Homo sapiens: one gene and its partners. The protein of the gene in region 1 purifies or fractionates together with the protein of each later gene. This does not show direct contact. Each region holds a gene or a part of one and is shown in the gene's direction. Other genes may lie near its edges.

What was found.
Region 2: the proteins of L2HGDH (region 1) and SERPINB4 purify together in Homo sapiens (affinity purification with mass spectrometry; one large-scale study listed by BioGRID and IntAct). This does not show direct contact.
Region 3: the proteins of L2HGDH (region 1) and IVL purify together in Homo sapiens (affinity purification with mass spectrometry; 3 studies listed by BioGRID and IntAct, with this or other methods). This does not show direct contact.

Annotation. Positions count from the first base shown.
Region 1 is NC_000014.9:50,246,134-50,249,787, reverse strand, and holds part of L2HGDH (L-2-hydroxyglutarate dehydrogenase, mitochondrial isoform 1 precursor), read left to right. Parts: intron 1-2,534; coding exon 2,535-2,730; 3' UTR 2,731-3,654.
Region 2 is NC_000018.10:63,638,986-63,641,388, reverse strand, and holds part of SERPINB4 (serpin B4), read left to right. Parts: intron 1-397; coding exon 398-515; intron 516-1,612; coding exon 1,613-1,755; intron 1,756-2,048; coding exon 2,049-2,204; intron 2,205-2,403. UniProt on the Homo sapiens protein: May act as a protease inhibitor to modulate the host immune response against tumor cells.
Region 3 is NC_000001.11:152,906,967-152,911,345, forward strand, and holds the start of IVL (involucrin), read left to right. Parts: upstream 1-1,579; 5' UTR 1,580-1,623; intron 1,624-2,812; 5' UTR 2,813-2,831; coding exon 2,832-4,379. UniProt on the Homo sapiens protein: Part of the insoluble cornified cell envelope (CE) of stratified squamous epithelia.

The DNA of each region.
Region 1 (3,654 bases):
TTTACTTTTATCTCTGCTTTTCTCAAACAGAAGGAGTCTTTCACTGTAGCCACCACAGCTGGGAATGTGCTGGGTCACACCTGAAGCCAGCACATCTCAGAGTCTCATCCAAGGCCCATGACGCACTCCTTGGGTATCGCTGCTGGTTATTCAGGGCCCAAGGGCTCTTTAGTCAGCAGGTAATGTATCCTGCTAGGACTGGGTTTTTCCCTCCAAGGCAGTAGGTTCCCTTTTGGCCCGGGGTGGGTCTAGAAATGTTGTTCAGGAGCTAGGGCCTATAATGCGGGCCTCACAACTCTGCCCAGTGCCATATCCTACTGTGGCTGAGCTGGAATCCAAGATGTAAGACGGTCCTCTTTACTCTTTGCTCTTTGCTCCTTAAGCAGAAGAAAGGAGTCACTTCTATTGCAGCTGCCTTTGTTTGGGGGATGGATGATGCAAGCACTCTTTTAGCTATGCCGGCTGGTATCTCCCTAGATCACATGCCACCCTAGTCCACTGACTATAAGCCCAGCCTAGTGCTAGTAGCTGAGGAGTTGGAGTCCTTGTGCCCTAGACTGTATTTCAAGTTTATCTAGGACCCCAGAGCTTTTCAGCCCACGGTGGTGAGGCTTGCAGGGAAACTCAAGTTCTGACCACTGGGATGGATGCTTCCTGTCTAGCTGGGGCAGGTCCAAATGCTCCCTCCATGTGCTGGCGCTGGCTGAGCCCAGCCCAGCTTTATTCTCCACTGTGACAGGGCAGCACTGAGTTCAGTGTAAAGGCCCCCAGCCACTGTACCCTCCCTTTCCCAAGTGCATAGGTTCTGTCTCCACACCACATGGCTGGCTGCTGCTAGGGGGTGAGGGAGGGGTGGCATTGGCGATGCAAGACCATCTTTTCTGCCCTCCTCAATGCCTCTTTCAAAGATATGAAGTCAAAACCAGCCACTGTGATTGCTCACCTGATTTTTGGTTCTTGTGACGGTGCTTTTCTGTGTGCAGATAGTTAAAATTTGGTGTTCTAGCAGCCGAACCAATGTTTGTAGGCTTCTTTTCCACCGTCTTGCTCCACTCACTCCCATATCTGATTCTTACTTGGAAATTCTTACAGCTAAAAAATCTCTTGTCCAGATTCCCTGCAGGATTCTATAGGGAAGATCACTTATCTTTATCATACAACCTTTCACTCTTACTGTTATAATTCTTATTTACCTCTCTACGAATGAATAGTATAGCTCTGTGATTTCAGGCAAGTTACTTAATCTCTCTGTGTTTCTTTGCTGTTAAATATAAACTGTGTCAGCCTCTTAAGAGTTGTTTTGAGGATTAAATGAGGTAATTCCTAGCACAGAGTAAGCACTTACTAAATAATAGCTATTACTATTATCTCTCTTCAGCCAGCTGAAGTCTTAGAGGGCAGTGCCTTCATAGTGTTCTTTGTATCTTCTGCAAGTACTTATCTGATTTGTCCCAGAATTAGTAAAAAATGTTTAATATTGTTTCCTGATTTCTTGAGCCTTGCTGGTGTGTATAAGATAGAATTTTTCACACTGGGCTTCCTTGGACAAGTTTCATAAGAGGTGCTTTTTTGTAGTTCAAAAACATTGGATTCAAATTTCATCTGTAAATTTTAACTGTTTAAAAAAACAACAAAAATCTGTGAGCTCAAATGTTATAAAATAGAATTTTAAGTAATAAAGATTATCAGTGTCTTTACAGTTGTTCACACCTATAATCCCATCATTTTGGGAGGCTAAGGTGGGAGGATCACTTGAGGCCAGGAGTTTGAGACCAGCCTGGGCAACGTAGGGAAACCTTGTCTCTACAAAAAAAAATTTTCTTTAATTAGCCAGGCGAGGTTGTGTACACAACCTGAGCAACAGATCAAGACTATCTCAATTAAAAAAAAAAAGACTCTCATTTTATTAACATGCTGCTAAATTTATTTTTATGCTTTTCCTATCATCTTTTGAAATTGAAGATGATCCTGATATTGAAGGGTAAACTCTTAAAAACAAACTGCAAAACAAGAACTTGTTGCCATTTGCAAATATTTCTCTCCATAAATTTTAATTGTGTGAATTTTAAAAACACAAAAATAAGTAGAATAGGATACAGGAATGCAACTGACACATAACCTCTGCTTTCATTGATTTGTATTACTCAGATGAGGCTTATTGTTGCCATTGATTGATTTTTATAATAAATTCATTCTATAAATTTAAATAAAAATATACCTGTTCTAATTAAGTGTGGATTTACCTACTACCTTTGGAAAGAGCAGACATTGATAAATAACTTACTTGTTTTTATGTATTTCTTTGATAAGCGTTTGTTACACTATTGTTACGTAATAGGTTTTAGGCTCTAAGCTAACAATATAGGTTTGACAGGCTACAACTGACAGCCTTTGGTTAAACATAAACTCATTGGGTTTCCATATAATTGTGCATTTAGAAGAATACTTTATTGCTTTAAGACTTTTTGGAAACGCTGACTTGTAAAGTATCCTATGTCTTTGAGTCAGCTGACTCCCATCTTTTACTTTTGCAGGGGCCCAGCTGGAGTAAGAGCCCAGGCCCTGGATAGAGATGGAAATCTGGTAGAAGATTTTGTATTTGATGCAGGAGTTGGGGATATTGGAAATCGCATTCTTCATGTGAGAAATGCACCTTCTCCTGCTGCTACTTCTTCCATTGCAATTTCTGGAATGATTGCAGATGAAGTACAACAAAGATTTGAATTATAAATAATGAAAGGAGCTAGGTATGCACTGTAATCTTCATGTCAGCAACAAGAATGTACTAATTGCATTCTTTAATTTAAAAAATGGTTTTTAAACTTTAGTTTTTAGGTCAAAGATAACCACTGCATTGTTAAAATGATGTAACATAGAAATAATAATTTTCTACAAAAATTAGCCAGGCATGGTGGCGCATGCCTGTAATCTCAGCTACTCAGGAGGCTGAGGCAGGAGAATCAATTGAACCGAGCAGACGGAGGTGAGCTGAGAGCTGAGATTGCACCACTGCACTCCAGCCTGGGTGACAGAGCAAGAAAATAATAATAATAATAATTTTCAAAATGTTAGGCTGGGGGCCGTGGCCAGCACTTTGGGAAGCCAAGGCAGGTAGATTGTAGCCCAGGAGTTTGAGAACAGCCTGGGCAACATGGCAAAACCCTGTTTCTACACAAAGTTAGCTGGGTCTGGTGCCTCTGTAGTTCCAGCTCCTCAGTAGGCTGAGGTGAGAGGATCACTTGAGCCCAGGAGGTCTAGGCTGCAGTGAGCTTATGTTCATGACACTGCATTCCAGGCTGGATGATAGAGCAAGATCTTGTCTCAAAAAAAAAAAAAAAAAAAAAAAAAATCCAGCCTGGGCAACATAGTGAATGAAACCCCATCTCTACAAAAAATACAAAAATTAGCTGGGCATGATGGTGTGTGCCTGTAGTCCCAGCTACTTGGGGGCTGAGGCAGGAGGATCGCTTGAGCCCGGGAGATCAAGGCTACAGTGAGCTGTGTTCATGCCACTATACCCCAGCCTGGGCAACAAAGTGAGTCCCTGACTCAAAAAATAAAAACAACAACAAAAAATAAATTCCATGCTTATTTACTTTGCGAATAAAGAGGCAAGGTACAGTTTTATCTGTCCGAATCCCTGACTTTTATTTA
Region 2 (2,403 bases), on another chromosome or scaffold:
TGAGAATAGTTGAGGAAGTACCAGGAAATATTGAATGCACAGGATGAAAGACAAAAACAAAGATCAGAAACATCATGGTTAAAATTACTGGAGAGAAGTCTGAGAAGCAATGAATCTCCTTCAGGGAAGCCTGCTCTGCAGTTTGCAAACCACAGCCTCTTCTGCTTCTGCCTTTTGCCAAGATGATATTGACCTTCAGTGACCTCTTTCTTGTGCCAGCCCACATTCCCCTTTTGCATTGCCTACATGACACCTGTATAAAAATATCCATGGACAGGAGATACTGCATCTATTCAGGGTCTGGATTCAGCTTACTGTTGTTACAAATAAGTAAGTTTGGTAATATATAGTTACATAAATTACTCCTAATTCCTACTTCTTCCTTCATATCTCAAAGGAATATTTAGATGCCATCAAGAAATTTTACCAGACCAGTGTGGAATCTACTGATTTTGCAAATGCTCCAGAAGAAAGTCGAAAGAAGATTAACTCCTGGGTGGAAAGTCAAACGAATGGTAGGAGAGCCACCCATTATAGAAACACCTTTGAGAAACCTATGCCAGTGAGCCTTGTGCTTGACACTGCATGGGGGAACAGGTGTGGGGATTGAGATGGGTTTGCAGGGAGGGCTGAAGAGGGCACTCCAGATGAAGGATTTGTCCAAATGAATATGAAGAGAGCCTAGGGGAGCCAAGGAGGAAATCACAGGAAGCCAATTAGATGGAAACACATCTGGAGAATTATTTGCTTATGGCCCTGCATGACAATAGCTTTGTGGATCCCCTGTCTCCGCTCAGGCCTATTTTGAGATCATATCCTTTACTTTAAATCAGACTCAAATTTTTATGATGAATATTTAATAGAAAACATTAGAAAGCGTCTCTCGTCTCCTTTACTAATTGGGAAACAAGCAGCTCTCTGGTAAATCACCCTTTTGTCTCTGAGCTGGAGCTGCCTGGATCACATCTGTAGCCAATGTGTTCTGCAGGGATTATCACAGCTCTCTTCCCCATCAAGGGCAAAGAGCTTGACAAAGTCTCCATTCTACAGACATCTTTCTTACCTCCCACCTCTCATTACAGGCCAAACTTACAGCAACTCAACATGAGAGTGAATAGGAAGATACCCCCGGAAGTAGTGTCTGACAGCACAGGACATGCGTTTCATATTACAGAGCTCAAGTCACTCATCCTAAAATGCAATCAGGGCCTCCTTCCTCTGAATGGGGACCCCGTAGTTAAAAAAAAATAAAAGTAGGAAGAGGAGGGAGGGAGAAAGGAAAGACACATGTTGGAAGAGTAGACAAAATCAGTTTATCAGTATTCCAAATCAGATGATTGGAGACATTCATACACAGAGAACGTGAACTCCTTCTCTATCACAAGAAGTGATGTCTCCATCAAGGGTAACTTTATACGACTGGAGCCTTGAAGAAAGCTGCATCTGGTGAACCACTGGTCAGTGAGTCTAACAATTCAAAGATCAAAGTCAGTGAGTCTCAAGCAGGGATTTGGGTCAATAATTAACGATCAGTCACGAACATTTGCAAAGCATCTTCCAGACAAGCCATTTGTAGCTTGTGTAAAAGACTCTTTTATTCTTTCCCTTGCAGAAAAAATTAAAAACCTATTTCCTGATGGGACTATTGGCAATGATACGACACTGGTTCTTGTGAACGCAATCTATTTCAAAGGGCAGTGGGAGAATAAATTTAAAAAAGAAAACACTAAAGAGGAAAAATTTTGGCCAAACAAGGTATTGTCTATATTTTATTTATATAGTGTAATATGTTAATACATGGAATGTTAAACATTTCTGATGGAATGTAACATGATAAGTAAAAAATAAAAATTGTTCATGTCTGTTATTTTGTTGTTTTACTCTTATAACTTTATTTAGTTAGGAATACCTGAAAAACTATTGTTTCTAACTCATGGAATTCCTGGGTTATTTCTTAGAAGAAGAAGGATGTGTTGCTATCTCAATAATATTATCTTTTTTGTCTTGTGTTTCACGTGTTATTTGTTGGACACATTGATTTATTGCAGAATACATACAAATCTGTACAGATGATGAGGCAATACAATTCCTTTAATTTTGCCTTGCTGGAGGATGTACAGGCCAAGGTCCTGGAAATACCATACAAAGGCAAAGATCTAAGCATGATTGTGCTGCTGCCAAATGAAATCGATGGTCTGCAGAAGGTAAGAACTTGCATCTACAACTCTTCCTTCTACTGCCGGACATTTTTCCAAAGATACCAAGTTTAAACAAGGTAAAAGCTTATGACCGAGTTGCCTCAAAATGATGAAAAATTCTAAATGAGGAATGATGACTCACCTTCATATTACAAATATTTGAGCATAGGGCCTGACACAAACTGAAAGCTTAGTTTTTGTTTGT
Region 3 (4,379 bases), on another chromosome or scaffold:
AATGAATGATGTCCATATAATAAGTTATTAGCCAACCATTAAAAAGAAAGGGAAGAAATAAATCAGTTTGGTTTTTACACACACATACAGACACACACATATAAACATTGATCAACACTGAAATGTTTAATAGTCATTATTTTCGGGTCGTAAAATTCACTGTTCTTCAATGAATACTTGTAGAGCACATATTATATGCAGTAGTTTTGATAGGTTCTAGGGGTATAGTGGAAAACATACCAGGTATACGCTGCTCTTAGCTTATTTTCCAGTGGGAAAGATAGACAATAAGCAAGTGAACAAATGCAAATAAATTACTCTAGATTGTTATAAGTGAAATTAAGTACCAATCCTTTAGATATGGTACACAGAGAAGGATCTCTGACAGACCCCAACATTGACACTGAAGCTGAAAGGCATAAAAGAACCAGAGACCTGGGGAGGGGCCGGTGGGCAGAAGGAGAGCAGGTGCCAAGCCCCCAGGTGGAGAGCTCTGGGCTCATCTCAGGAACCGAAGGCCCTCAGTGAGGTAAGAATATACCTCTCAGGGAGAGATTGACATGAATTGGGGCCCCAGAAGAAGGCAGAAGCCAGGTACCCAGGGTCTTTTAAACCACGGCAGTGAGTTTGAATGTTATTTCAAGTGTGCTGGTGCACTGTTGGCACGGGGGAGAGATGTGCTCAAATCCCCACTCTGAAAGATTTCTTAAGCTATTTCTAGAGTATGATTTACAACAGGAAATGGATGATTTGATTCTGATCTTTATACCTTCATGCATTTAAAAAAGTACTTAAGAAAGTAGTTTGGTTTGTCATTATAAAAAGCAATACTTATTTTTATATTGTGTAGATTCAATCTTGTTTCCTTGCCTAGAGTGGGCCGTGCTTTGGAGTTCTTATGAGCATGGCATTCCTGAGAACTTCTCTAACTGCAGCCTCGGGCATAGAGGCTGGGCAGCAAGTGGCAGCAGCAGAGGACTCCTAGAAGCCTTCTACTTGACTCTACTTGGCCTAAAGTCAAACTCCCTCCACCAAAGACAGAGTTTATTTCCACATAGGATGGAGTTAAAAAATATATTCTGAGAGAGGAAGGGCTTGTGGCCCAAGAGAACACCCCAGAAATACCACCCCTTCATGGGAAGTGACTCTATCTTCAAACATATAACCCAGCCTGGACATCCCCGAAAGACACATAACTTTCCATTTCATGCCCTTGAAAGTGAATCTTTTGGCCTAATAATGAGAACAAACTCATTTTGAAAGTGGAAAAATTGAGATTCAGAGCAGAAGTTTGACTAAGGTCACAAAACAGTAGGATGCCTCACTCAGCTCCCTGTGCCTAGGTCAGAAAAGCATCACAGGAATAGTTGAGCTACCAGAATCCTCTGGCCAGGCAGGAGCTGTGTGTCCCTGGGAAATGGGGCCCTAAAGGGTTTGCTGCTTAAGATGCCTGTGGTGAGTCAGGAAGGGGTTAGAGGAAGTTGACCAACTAGAGTGGTGAAACCTGTCCATCACCTTCAACCTGGAGGGAGGCCAGGCTGCAGAATGATATAAAGAGTGCCCTGACTCCTGCTCAGCTCAGCACTCCACCAAAGCCTCTGCCTCAGCCTTACTGTGAGTCTGGTAAGTGTCGGATGGTAGAACCAGGGTTGGGACTCGGGACCTCCAACAGCATACGATGTGGTGGGGGTGGGCAGCCTGGGTGGGGGTGGGCATTACTCTGGGGCTGGATTCAGCTGGACTTTCATTCTAGGGGGACTCGAGTCAGAGTACTGAGAGAAAAGTGCCTTGGCACAGAAGTGCAGAACAGAGAGTAATCATCCTATGTCCCATCTTTTCTTGTGACCATATTTTTGGATTTGTGTGTGAGAGAGAATTATGGAAGGGAGGAGGGGAATAGCATTCAACTTCTTTCCTAAACCTCTTGGGTTTTGACAGACCATCATTTTGCCTTCTTTATGGAGGGAGAGGTTCAGGGAAGAGCTTCTACCTTTTGGCTATGCTGCACAGAGGGATGGCAGAATGGGGAAACCTTTCTATTTGGAGAAACCTAGGCAGAGCTGGGACAGGAAAACTCAACTTAGAAGTATAAGACTTGGAAGAACAACCTCCAACTCTCAGCAACCTTCCAGCTCCCGCAGCCCCACCCCAGACACAAGGACTGCAGCTAAACCTCAGAAGGTCAGGAGAGAAAGCAGCCCTGGGGTTGAATAGGCCAACCTGCTGGCTTTACAGGGGGGAAAACCAAATCCCAGGAGACTAAGTGACATGCCCAGAAACACACAGCATTCCAATGGGAGATTCAGGCCTAGAGCATGTCCTGTGGCTCCAGTCTGGAGGTCACACCATGACCTCTTAGGTCCTCTCTGGCACGGCCTATTGGTTTTCTAGGACTTGGTGTTCTCCAAGAGACATTTCATTCCCTAAGGCCTTACTCCTCACTGTGACATAATCCCAGAACGCATCTCTGCTCCTTGGTCAGTGAAGCGATGAGGGTGGACACAAGGACTAGACAAGAGCAGACAGTGAGCTGGCACCTGACCCACCCTTGCAGAACAGCCCTGCAGACAGATCTCCTTGTTGGCTCTCACCTGGGAACAAGGAGGCTCCTAGGAGGACCTTTCTCTGCCCCTCCACATTTCCACCCTTCTCTCTCTGCTGCTTTTGGGAAATGATAGTCCAGAGGTGGTAGAACAGTACCCTGCCCAAGGGAAGAGGGGATGCTAAAAAACCAGATACTTCTGCAGATTCCCAAGGTTTCATCTATTTCCTTTGCCTTCAGCCTGTGCATCAGACCTCTTCTGTCTTTCAGGTTGACAGTAGCTTCTAAGATGTCCCAGCAACACACACTGCCAGTGACCCTCTCCCCTGCCCTCAGTCAGGAGCTCCTCAAGACTGTTCCTCCTCCAGTCAATACCCATCAGGAGCAAATGAAACAGCCAACTCCACTGCCTCCCCCATGCCAGAAGGTGCCTGTCGAGCTCCCAGTGGAGGTCCCATCAAAGCAAGAGGAAAAGCACATGACTGCTGTAAAGGGACTGCCTGAGCAAGAATGTGAGCAACAGCAGAAGGAGCCACAGGAGCAGGAGCTGCAGCAACAGCACTGGGAACAGCATGAGGAATATCAGAAAGCAGAAAACCCAGAGCAGCAGCTTAAGCAGGAGAAAACACAAAGGGATCAGCAGCTAAACAAACAGCTGGAAGAAGAGAAGAAGCTCTTAGACCAGCAACTGGATCAAGAGCTAGTCAAGAGAGATGAGCAACTGGGAATGAAGAAAGAGCAACTGTTGGAGCTCCCAGAGCAGCAGGAGGGGCACCTGAAGCACCTAGAGCAGCAGGAGGGACAGCTGAAGCACCCGGAGCAGCAGGAGGGGCAGCTGGAGCTCCCAGAGCAGCAGGAGGGGCAGCTGGAGCTCCCAGAGCAGCAGGAGGGGCAGCTGGAGCTCCCAGAGCAGCAGGAGGGGCAGCTGGAGCTCCCAGAGCAGCAGGAGGGGCAGCTGGAGCTCCCAGAGCAGCAGGAGGGGCAGCTGGAGCTCCCACAGCAGCAGGAGGGGCAGCTGGAGCTCTCTGAGCAGCAGGAGGGGCAGCTGGAGCTCTCTGAGCAGCAGGAGGGACAGCTGAAGCACCTGGAGCACCAGGAGGGGCAGCTGGAGGTCCCAGAGGAGCAGATGGGGCAGCTGAAGTACCTGGAACAGCAGGAGGGGCAGCTGAAGCACCTGGATCAGCAGGAGAAGCAGCCAGAGCTCCCAGAGCAGCAGATGGGGCAGCTGAAGCACCTGGAGCAGCAGGAGGGGCAGCCTAAGCATCTGGAGCAGCAGGAGGGGCAACTGGAGCAGCTGGAGGAGCAGGAGGGGCAGCTGAAGCACCTGGAGCAGCAGGAGGGGCAGCTGGAGCACCTGGAGCACCAGGAAGGGCAGCTGGGGCTCCCAGAGCAGCAGGTGCTGCAGCTGAAGCAGCTAGAGAAGCAGCAGGGGCAGCCAAAGCACCTGGAGGAGGAGGAGGGGCAGCTGAAGCACCTGGTGCAGCAGGAGGGGCAGCTGAAGCATCTGGTGCAGCAGGAGGGGCAGCTGGAGCAGCAGGAGAGGCAGGTGGAGCACCTGGAGCAGCAGGTGGGGCAGCTGAAGCACCTAGAGGAGCAGGAGGGACAACTGAAGCATCTGGAGCAGCAGCAGGGGCAGTTGGAGGTCCCAGAGCAGCAGGTGGGGCAGCCAAAGAACCTGGAGCAGGAGGAGAAGCAACTGGAGCTCCCAGAGCAGCAAGAGGGCCAGGTGAAGCACCTGGAGAAGCAGGAGGCACAGCTGGAGCTCCCAGAGCAGCAGGTAGGACAGCCAAAGCACCTGGAACAGCAGGAAAAGCACCTAGAGCACCCAGAGCAGCAG